Linked DNA regions of Homo sapiens: region 1 is linked to region 2. Evidence: fine-mapped expression QTL. A gene starts in region 2. The other region holds a variant in brackets. All regions are shown on one strand. Distances are from middle to middle.

Region 1 (5,360 bases), 89 kb after region 2:
GTGCTCTCTGAACGTGACTGAGCTGCACCGGAGCCTCGGGTCCAAAGAATCAATCTACCCCCAGCCCAGCCAGCGAGCCCCTCCTAAACCAGGCACTGCCAGCAAACCCACTCCTGAACCTGTACCACACGACATCCCCCACATCCACGTCCAACCATCCGCACTTACTGTGGCTTGGTTCATTCTACATATGCACACACACATGCATACGCAGATACACACACACACACACGCACACACACACAGCTTCCACTCCTCCACTGAAACACACCCTACCCACTGTTCCAGGCTGAATGCATGTGCCATGCTCTGCATGGCTGTCCCCACCTCCCAAAATCCCTGTGTTGAAATCCTAACCCCCAAGGGAATGGTAGTAGAAGGCAGGGTCTTTGGGAGGTGATGAGAGAATGGGGACAGAGCCCTCACAAATGGGATTAGTGTCCTTATAAAAGGGCCTGAGAGAGCCACTCCTACCAAGCGAGGACACACAGGAAGTGATGTGACATCTATGAACCAGGAAACAAATGGGCCCTCAACAGACACGAAATCTGCCGGCGCCCTGATCCTGGACTTCCAGCCTCCAGGACTGTGAGAAATGCATTTCCATTGTTCACAAGCCAGCAGGCTGTGGTCTTAGTTCCGGCAGCCCAGGCTGACAGAGCCAGCAGCCACTTCCTGCATCTCAACAGTGTGGCTCAGAGCTCACAGTGCCTCCGCTGGTCCCTGGTCTCTGACGTGGCTTCCACTTGGCCTCTTGATAGAGTGGCATTATGCCCGTGCCCATGGTGGGGACCTGCACCTCACACTCCCACTCTCCAAGCTGGGGCTGAGTCTTCCTCTTCTCTGCCTCCCTGGAGGCCACAGAAGGTGTGCTGACCGAGCCCCATAGTGCAGAGGCTGCAGCTGCGGCACCAAGGCAGACGCCCTGTCCTCAGCACCCAAGGGCTGGCTTCCCCCCAACAGCCGCCCTTCAGAGAAAATGTCCCCTCCCCAGGGCTGGGGATGGCTGAATGTCCTACAGCAGCCCTGAGGTTGACACTAGACACCGTGCCCCTTGTCCCCAGCTTTAGGGTCACAGGGCCCTCCCGAGCTACACAATTTTGGGGCAGGTGGAGAGCTGCTCCCATTGTGGGCACAGTGGTACCAGGCCTGTGAGCTTCAAAGCCAGGAAGTGGCCAAGTCACAGAGAGCCACGGCACTTGCTATGGTGCCATGGCCACCAGGGTTGGTCAGGGCAGAGGTGGGACCTCTCCTACATCTGCTGTCTGGCCTCTTATGTCTCAGCTGTTGGCCATCACAATAAACTCCACCCCACGGAGGCGGGGCATGCTTCTGATCAGGGCCAGGTTGGCGGGGGACTCGGCATGGCGGGGAGTGGTGGAGGGAGGGCCTGTCAGCTTGCTTGACGCTTCATCTCTGGTGGGTTCCTACACCTCCTGGCTGAGGCCAAAACCAAGCATAGCTCTGAGGGTCCGGTGCAGAAATACTTGGGCCACTTCTCCCACAGTTCCCAAGGCCCAGTGCACAAGGGGAGGGAAGGCTGCAGGCCTGGCTCCCCGGGGAACTCCTGTCCTGAACTCACACTGGTGCGGCCTCCAGGGCCCAGAGGTATGGGGCCCAGACCCTTACCCCGTTCTGGCTGTTGCAATGCCGGGTGCTGATGATGGCGCCTGCCTCCTCGATCATCTTCAGGATGGTCCCCCCGTGGACATTGCCGGCCACGTTGGCATCATCTGGCCGCATGATCCTAGGGCAGAGGAGAAGCAGGATGAGGCCTCTGGAGAGGATGCCATTTGTGCAACAGTGACAATCCAAGGAGGGGAGAAGGTCCCCAAAGGGCTCAATGGCTCCCGGAGGAAAGAGAACCTTCCCAATGTTTGGGCTCTTCCTAGGTGGTGTGTTCGTCAGGGTGGGGTGCCACCTGCTAGGCCACGGAAGGGGCCCTGAGATGCTGTTTCCATGAGAGAGAAGGAGGGCAGAGGGGCACTTTCTCCCCCTGAAGCCACATGTCCCTGGACTGCCCTGGCAGGGAAGGGCTGATGGTGAAGACCTTTAAGCAAAGCCACAGGGCAGGGAGGTGGTGATCAGCCCTTGGGGTTCCCAGTGACCAACACACAGACTGTGACCCTAGGAGCAAATTCCCGGGACCACCACCACCCCCGTCAGGAGTCCCAGAGAAGCCAGGTAGCCACGGCTGTTCTGAGAACTAAACATGAGTCGCAGCTTCAAGACCCCAGGCCCTGTCAGCAGGTGAGCGCCTGCCCACTGCGCGCTAAGCTCCTCTGTGGGTCCCGGGGGCAGTGTGGAATCAGGCCCTGGATTGAAGGCAAGGAGCCTCCCAGGTCAGAAGGAATGGAAACGCCACCTCACTTCCCCAAAGAGGAACAACTTCATCCTTGCCGTGAGCAGCCGGTAGTGTGGGAGCTCCACGAAATCTCTGGAATCCCAACAAGCCAGCTTGGCAGTCCTGCCAGGGCAAGTTGCCTGGCACCTTCCCAGACAGCACCCAGCTGATGAAAGCCGCCTTCACAGGCCGAGGCCTGGAGACGAGTGACAGGCAGCGGGCACAGGTCCAGGGTCCAGCATCCACCTGCAGCTTGTGTAGCCTGCCCAGCCTTGCTGGACAGTGTGGGGGCCCCAGGAGCAGCGTCTCCCCAGGTCTGCATCTCCTCTCTGCTTCTCTAGCAGCTCCAAGGCTGAGCAAGTCACTCTCCAAGAGCGTTCCTGGCTCTGGCTCTTACTTGCTAGGTAACCTGGGCAAGCTGTCAGAACCCTCAATCCTCCATGTGCTCATCTGTACAATGGGTAGAATGACAACACTGCCTCGCCTAACTGGGAGATCACGCAGATCGCACACTCACTCCACAACAGCGCTGGCAGACACATGGTACACAGTAGATAGTCCACACGTTAACTAGGAGAATTTTTCCCTTTTTGGTAAGTATTTAGCCAACTTGGTTGGAAGCTCCAAGAAACCCACCATCTGGCCACAGGATGCCACTTCTAGAGCAAATGACCACAGATGTCCCCCAGCAACCCA[T/C]AGCTGCCCATCCCCAGTGTCACCCCTCCACCCTGGGTGAGAGTCTATTATGCAAACCAGGGCCCACTTAGGCCAACTGGCTTCTGGCTCTGAGGTCAGGCAGGGCCCAAGGTTCCGTGGGAGGCTCAGGGACAGTTGCCTGTGGAGCGGCCGGCACGGCGTGACACAGTGGCCGGGGGATCCCCAGAGCACACAAGAAACCTCATTTGGCTTCTCAAGTGTTCATTTTAAAATACCTTTGTTTTTAAAAATTGAACTTACTCTATGAAAGGTTTTTGGGCTTTTTTTGTCTGAGTTATGAGGTAGCCAATTATAAGTCACAAAATGATTCTATCAGCCTCTTCCCTTTGTTTTCCACTTAGTAGGAAGGGCCTTCCCCGCACCAGCTGCAGCGGGCAGAGGGTCACTTTCCACACAGGCCTGTCCTGGGGGCACTAGCCAAGGCTGTGGGTGGGTGCGGAGAGCAGGGCCCAGCTCCTGGTTCTAGAGCAGTGAGGAAACATCAGCCCAGCATTTCCCAGGAGCAGCAGAGCCAGCCTCCAGAGCAGCCTGAATGACTGCTGCAGGCCTCACTTTGCCTGTCTGTGAAGTGGAGCCACACACAGCAGGCTGGCCCCCAGGAATGACACAAGGCCAGGGAGAGAAGACGCGGGCCAAGGGCTGCAGAGCAGCGGAGGAAGTGCTTTCATGCGGTGGGCACTGAAGACAGGACAGATATGTGGGTAGCCTTTAAGACAGAAGACCAGGGACAGTGCCTGAGGCCCCGAGGAAGAGCCTGGAGCCACCTGGCAACAAAGTGAGGACTCGGCACTTGGCGCTGTGCCATCAGGAGTACATGCCAGGAACTGCAGACCGCACGCCAGCTGGCTACCACGGGCCTGGCCGCCTTTCTTCGGCACCTTGGGTCCTGCACCAAGGACCATCCTAACTCCCCAACTGACCACCCAGGAAGCCAGCCCCTGCCCTCAAGGTCAGACACAACCCTCTCCCCTACAGGACCTGACTCCTGCCTGGGGACTGTGCTGTCACCTCCAATGCACAAGGCTCAAAGCCCAACTCACTTACCCCTTCTCCCTTTCCCCAAATCAGACACCTTCCCTCCAAGCCAGGGCAGCCAGTGAGTCCCAGCCTCAGCTGGGATTCCTTCCCATCCTGCATACCACCACCAGCTGCTCCACACCTGGCCCCTCCCTCTTCCCCTCCCCACCTCCCTCATTCCTTCCAAACAGCTCAGGAACCGCTGGATCCAGCCAGCCTCCAGGACCCATAAACAGCTCTGTCACTCTCTCAGGCCCCGCCCCATGGCCTGGCCAAGGCCAACCGTGTCCATCCCAGGACAGGGTCATGACTGCCTCTGTCTAAAGGCAGGCAGGGGTGAGAGCCAGGGAGCCAGGGAAGCTGCTGCGTCTCACTGGAGACTTCGTTTTCCCATTTCTTTTTTTTTTTTTTTGAGACGGCGTCTCGCTCTGTCTCCCAGGCTGGAGTGCAGTGGCACGATCTTGGCTCACCGCAAGCTCCGCCTCCTGGGTTCTCCTGCCTCAGCCTCCCGAGTAGCTGGCACTACAGGCGCCCGCCACCACGCCCGGCTAATTTTTTGCATTTTTTAGTAGAGAAGGGGTTTCACCGTATTAGCCAGGATGGTCTTGATCTCCTGACCTCGTTCGTGATCCCATTTCTAATAAAGACACGGGTACCGAAAGCACTTCATGTTCCTCTTTACTATTTTGTTTGTTTTTTGAGACAGCGTCTCATTCTGTCACCCAGGCTGGAGTACAGTGGCATGATCTTGGCTCACTGCAAACTCCGTCTCCTGGGTTCAAGCGATTCCCCTGCCTCAGCCTTCCGAGTAAGTGGGATTACAAGCATGCACCACCACGCCTGGCTAAATTTTGTATTTTTACTAGAGACAGGGTTTTGCCATGTTGCCCAGGCTGTCTCAAATTCCTGACCTCAGGTGATCCTAAAGTGCTGGGATTACAGGTGTGAGCCACCGCACCCGGCCCCTCTTTACTATTAAAAAACTGAAATACAGGCTGGGCGCAGTGGCTACTAGGGAGGCTGAGGTAGGAGGATCACTTGAGCCTGGGAAGAGTACGTTGCAGTGAGCCACAATTGCACCACTGCACTCAAGCCTGGGCAACAGAGTGAGATGCTGTCTCAAAAGAAAAAAAAAATTGAAATATATTTGGCTGCTGGGCGCGGTGGCTCACACCTGTAATCCCAGCACTTACAGAGGCCGAGGCGGGGGCGGATCACTTGAGGTCAGGAATTCAGGACTTGCCTGGCCAAAATGGCAAAACCCCATCTCTACTAAAAATAC
Region 2 (5,360 bases):
CGCTCTCAAATAGGAAAGTGGACTCAGCATGCACCTAGCAGGTCAGCATCTATTTCTACCTGCCCAAGGCAGCCTCGGCTGTGAGACTGGGAGGCCTTCCCTCAGATGCCCAACAAGCTCTGTCTAGCCCCGTGAACAAGCTCTGTCTAGCCCCGTGACCTTGGCCCCGCCCACCCTGTCCATGTGTTGATTACTGGTGCAGGGTGGTAAGGAAAGAGCCACAGGCTGCAACCAGCCCAGCCCTTCGCGGTGCCAGTTCTTCCTCTCGTCTAGCCTAATGCTGCATTACTGCTGGGAAAGGCTTTAGGTCTGAAGGCAGGGTGCAGTGGCTCATGCCTGTAATCCTAGCACTCGGGGAGGCCAAGGTGAGTGGATGGCTTGAGCCCGGGAGTTCGAGACCAGCTTGGGCAACATGGGGAAAACCCATCTGTACAACAAATAAAAAAATTGGCCAGGCGTAGTGGTGTGAGCCTATAGTCCCAGCTACTTGGAAGGCTGAGGTGTGAGGATCACCTGAGCCTGGGGAGGTCAAGGATACAGTGAGCCATGATTGTGCCACTGCACTCTAGCCTGAGCAACAGAGTGAGACCCTGTCTTAAAAAGAAAAAGGCTCTAGGTCTGTGGGCAGGGGCACGTGCATCCTCTTGCACACGGGCATGCTCCTCCAGTGAGTGCCCCCACAATTCATCCCCATTGTAAAGTTTGTCCAGCAGAAGCAGGGAGAGGTAAAGCTGTTTGCCCGGCCAGCACTTGCCTGAGCCAGGATCCAAACTCCACTTGCCTGACACCAAAGTCCTGGCCTCTCAAACCCTAAAATGTTGGGGAAAAGGGCATTTTTTTTTTTTTTGTCCCTAGAGCTGAGGTCTTTCTGAGCCTCAGGTCTGCAGGGCAGGTCTCACCGTCCCCACACTGCAGATGGGAACACTTCAGGCAGAAGCTCAGGGCAACACGGAGAGAATAGTGTCAGGGCTGGGTTTGGGGCCAGGCACTCCTGGGCACTGTAGTCTTGGCATGGGAGAGGAACGTCCTGGGGGACAGGGCGTGGACACCGGGTTCCAAGTGCAGAGTGACAGAGGACTGGTTGTGTGGGAACAAAGTGTCCCTCTGGCTCTGGGTCAGTGACCACAGATCCACGGATTGCACCCTTTCTGTTCATTCTTCATAGAATGGAGCGGCCACTAGGGCCAGACCCCAGGCTGGGCTCCCCACAGTGCCGACGGGACCCAGTCTCCTGCTGGGAAGTGTCTCCTGCAGGGCACTTAAAGCCCTGTCTTCTGCTGGGAAGTTTCTCCTGCAGGGCACTTAAAGCATTCCGCAGCATCTCAGGACCCGGCTTCCCACTTCCCCGCCCACTGCAGGGCCAACTGCAGGTGCAACTAGCCTGGGACCCACCCGGGCCATGAGGCCTCCCTCCGCAAGACATGCGGGCGGGGCCGGGGCGTGACGTCACAGCTCCGGGCCAATGAGGCCGCGCGGCCCCGAGGCCCCATTGCGCAACAAAGAGAACCCAGAACTTGAAAGGATTCCCCGGGCTCTGGCTGCGCCCCGGCTTCCGCCCCCACGCCGGTCTCCGCCCGCGCTGCAGCCGATGTGTTCCACGGGGCCCGGCCTGGCCGTCGCCCAGGGAGGGACGCGCAGCGCGAGGCCTGGACATCTCCGGCACGCCCCCCCCAGCCCCCGCCCCTACAGTCCCAACCCCCTGGGGCTCCGATCCCCCCCCCCCCCCGCAATCCCCGCTCCGACTCGCGTGCTCTCGCCTGCTGGTCCCCAGTGGGTGCCCCGAGTCCTGCCCCACCCCGAGGGCGCGTCCGAGCGACAGGCTGGGAAACCTGGCGGGACTGCGGCCCCCGGACCCCTCTGGGTTGCGCCGAGCAGGGGCGGGCTCAGGATCCCCAGACCGCGCCCCGCCCCCGTCCCCTGAGAAGCCCAGGGGGCGGCGCTGCTAGGCCCCGATGCAGGGGGACGGAGGGAGGGGCTGGCCCCAGGGAAGTTACCCCGAAGGTCCCCAAGTTGGGGGGGTGCCAGCGCTAAGCGCCGCTCGTGGGCCCTCGGACGGACCCCGCGACCGATAGGGCGCGGAAAGCCCCCTCCCTTCCCGCCGAGTCCTCCCGCCGGGGTCCTCCCGTCCGTCCGCCCTCGGGCCAGGGCGGCGACGCTCACCCTGCATTCGAGCGCCCGGGGCTCCGGCTCGCTGCTCCCGCCTCCGGCTCCGGCTGCGGTTCCCGCGCCCCCGGGCCGAGCGCAGGCCGCCGAGGGCCGCGGGGGTGGCTGGCGGCGGAGCGGCCCGCGGGCCGGGGCATGCTGGCGGCGGCCACCGGCGGCCGGCGCGCTCCGCTAGGTGGGCTCGGCCCCGCCGCCCCTCCCTCCCCTAGGCGCCGCCGCCGCCGCCGCGCTTCGCTCAGCTCCCGCCGCTCCGCTGCTGCGCCGGGCGGCCGGGGGCGGGGGGCGGAGCAGGGCGCATGTCTCCGCCGGGGCCTCCGCACCGCCCCTCGGCCCGCCCCGCCCCCGCCCGCTCAGAGGCGCGGCCGTCTGTCGGTCTGTCAGCCCGTCCGTCCTTCCGTCAGTCCGTCCGTACGCAGCCCACCCGTGTCCCCGCGTCCGCCCGCGGCCGGCCCGAGCCTCCCTGGGCTGGTGGCGCCTCCTGACAGCGCCGCGCCCCTGGCTCCCAGCTCGGCTCGGTGCACACTCCGGACGCCGCCTTCGGACGCCGGGGCAAGACCCAGGCCCGGAGCTCTGGGGGCCCGGGGGCCAGAGGGAGCTGGGGCAGGAATGGACACTGAGAACCTGGGGCCAGGGCTGGGGCTCAGGGAGACCTTCCTGGAGGAAGCCGCATCTAAGATGAACAATCGGGGCGGGGCGTGGAGAGGACAAGGGACGCATGGCCAGCGGCTTCTAGGAACCGGGAATCCAGTCTGAAGCAGGGGCAGCGAGGGGCAAGGTTGGGCCAGTTACGGATTCACGCTGCTCCCCGGGCCTGGGGGGTCCACTGAGGGAATAAAGTGCACGGGCCACCGGGCTGCCGAGTGGTCCCCGCCACCCCCACAGGCTCAGAAATTGTTCTCTCTGAAACTCTGAGCACCACCGCCCAGCCGGGAGAGGCCAGGGTCTGCAGCCCAGCGCCTGAAGCCTTCTCCTACTCCCCTCCTCCCCTCCTCCCATTCTTCCCGCCCCTCCGCCCCTCCCTCCCAAGCCCTCATGCTATCACCACTCCTCATAGAGCACAGGCTGTCACCCACAGACTGACAGCCTCAGCTGGCCCCATGCAGGCGGAAAGCCTCCTGCTTCTTGATGGGGGCCCTGGAGAGGACGCCTCCTGAGGATCGTGCCTGTCTTTTCTAGAAAGCACCTGACCACACACACAATGGGCACAAGGCCTCTGGGGCTGCCTGGCATAGTGTCCTTCCGTGCCTCTGGGACACATCCATGACTAGGCACCCCTGTGTCTGGAGGAAACTAGGCACCCGACCAGGAGGAGACCCAAACCAATTGCAGCCAAAACGGATGCTTGGAGCTTGCCCAGTCCGGGCAGGGCTGCTCCACAGCCTGCACCTGCCTAAACCGTCCCCACACCCCAGGTCCCTGAGCAGCTTTTAGGGGGCCCAGGATGGGTCTTAGGGTCCGTCCCATGAGACAAAAAGAGGAGTGTCTGTAGAGAAAGGCCCCGCAATAACGTGTGGGGCTGAGCAAGGGGGAATCTGGGGCCATGCACACCTATACTCCCTGTGGTTTCTCGGGCAGCCAGGGCCCTCAGTGTCCCCAGTGAGCCCTCTGTGGACAGGTTGGCTCCCCCTCCAGGTGGTCCTGGTTATAAATAGGCCACCAGCAGTGGGAGGCTGGCACAGGGCAGCTGTAATCAAGGGTGGTGTTTCTAAGTGTCTCGCCTGTGACTCGGGGTGAAACGGTAGAAACGCCACACTTAATTACATGGCCACCGAGAGCCATGCCGCTTAGAAACACCACGGTTAAGATTGCACACACAGCCATGGAGAGCCATGCCTCTGTCTGGGCCTGGCTCCCCTCTGCCAGCCCAGCTGACCCACTGCCTGGACCAGTGCCTCTGCCCGGCCTCAGCTGGCTCTAGGGCAGGTGGGAGATGGCCTCTGATGGCCGCCCCGGGGCCCTGGCTTATTTCGTGCTGTGCTGGGTTCTGCTGCAAAGTGCCCGGTGCCCCTGGGAGGCGGTTTTCAGGTGCCTGGTTTGCCCAAAGCCACACGGATGAGTGGCTGAGCCAGGACTGAACTAGGGAGTCTGATGCGGGGCCCAACTTCAAGTGAAGGGTGTGGGTGCTTTGGGGAACTGGTCCCCTCAGTGAGCCCCTGGGCTCAGGCACTGCTGTGGCCAGCCCTGGGCCTTCTGCTAGCTGGGAAGGGTGGCCTCCTCATTGCTCTGAACCCAGGGCACCATTCTGGCATGGGTCATGGGTGGAGCTGGGGGCCGAGGCTGGCTGAGGCCAGCCCCGGGGGGCCAAGGGGCATGGTGGCGTGGCAGAAGCTTCATGTGGCTGAGCTTGTCCCTCCCACCTCCAACCCCCTCCCAGACAGGAAATAACCCCGTCAGCCGTGACTGGGGCCCGGGACAGATTCCCAAGCTCTTGGCTGGTGTTTCTGCACATCTGGAGCCGAGTCCTCGCTCTCCAGGGGCCAGAGGGAGCCTTGTGCGAGGCCGCAGCTGTTGACGGGCCAGTCTTCTCCAGGCGGCAGGACAGATGTTGGGGCTTCAGGGACAGACTGAATTGGGAACATTCTCCCAGATGCCACTTCTGGGTGTGCTTGATTGGAGGGCCTCCTTTTCAGCCATGGATGCAGGTGGGGTCCTGGTCCCTGTAGTGGCCTTGGCTGGGCCAGATGCACAGATCAACCCTGCTACACCGATACCCTCACCACACACGTGCTCACAGATATGCAGACAGATGCACACGCACATGCACAGATATGTCAGTGACACGTATGCCCACAGCTTCACACCAACGGCACTGACACACATTCGTGCTGTCCCTCAGACCCCTGCCCTATAAGCCATCCCAGCAGACTCCTGCCTGAGTGGCTGGGGGAGTTTCCACGTCAGGCACAGAGTCCTGGCGCCAGCTGGGGGGCTCCTTCAGACAGGATTTTGGGGTGTCTAGGCAGTTTCTAGCAAGAGGCTGGGTCAGGGTGGGGCTCCCACACGCTGAGCCAGGCCACATTTGGCTCTTCCCACACCATCACCTCGCTGAGTCTTTCCCAGCAGCCCCACCCTGTTCATAGGAAAGCCACACAGGCTCAGAGCCGGCATCCTCTGCAAGCCAGACAGGGGGGTTGTGGGGTGCTGGCACTCCCACCAGGCAGCGTGGCCCTGAGCCCACATCCTCCCAGCATCTGGGC

The links. PIP is the estimated chance that this variant, and not a neighbour inherited with it, causes the effect. A credible set is the group of variants that fine-mapping cannot tell apart.
Region 1: its variant is the best candidate, but not a certain one, in a credible set for the expression of GPR153 in whole blood (TOPMed, PIP 0.71).

Annotation. Positions count from the first base shown.
Region 1 is chr1:6,348,120-6,353,479 of GRCh38, forward strand. It overlaps ACOT7 (acyl-CoA thioesterase 7), which reads right to left. Exons shown (of 9, transcript NM_007274.4): 2 at 1,630-1,747. Among named protein-coding and RNA genes, the nearest start is that of ACOT7, 43 kb to the right of the region's middle. The variant T/C (reference allele first, on the strand shown) is at 3,041.
Region 2 is chr1:6,258,665-6,264,024 of GRCh38, forward strand. It overlaps GPR153 (G protein-coupled receptor 153), which reads right to left and starts at 2,434. Exons shown (of 6, transcript NM_207370.4): 1 at 2,161-2,434. RefSeq lists silencers at 1,464-1,653, 1,824-1,983, 2,004-2,173, 2,354-2,673.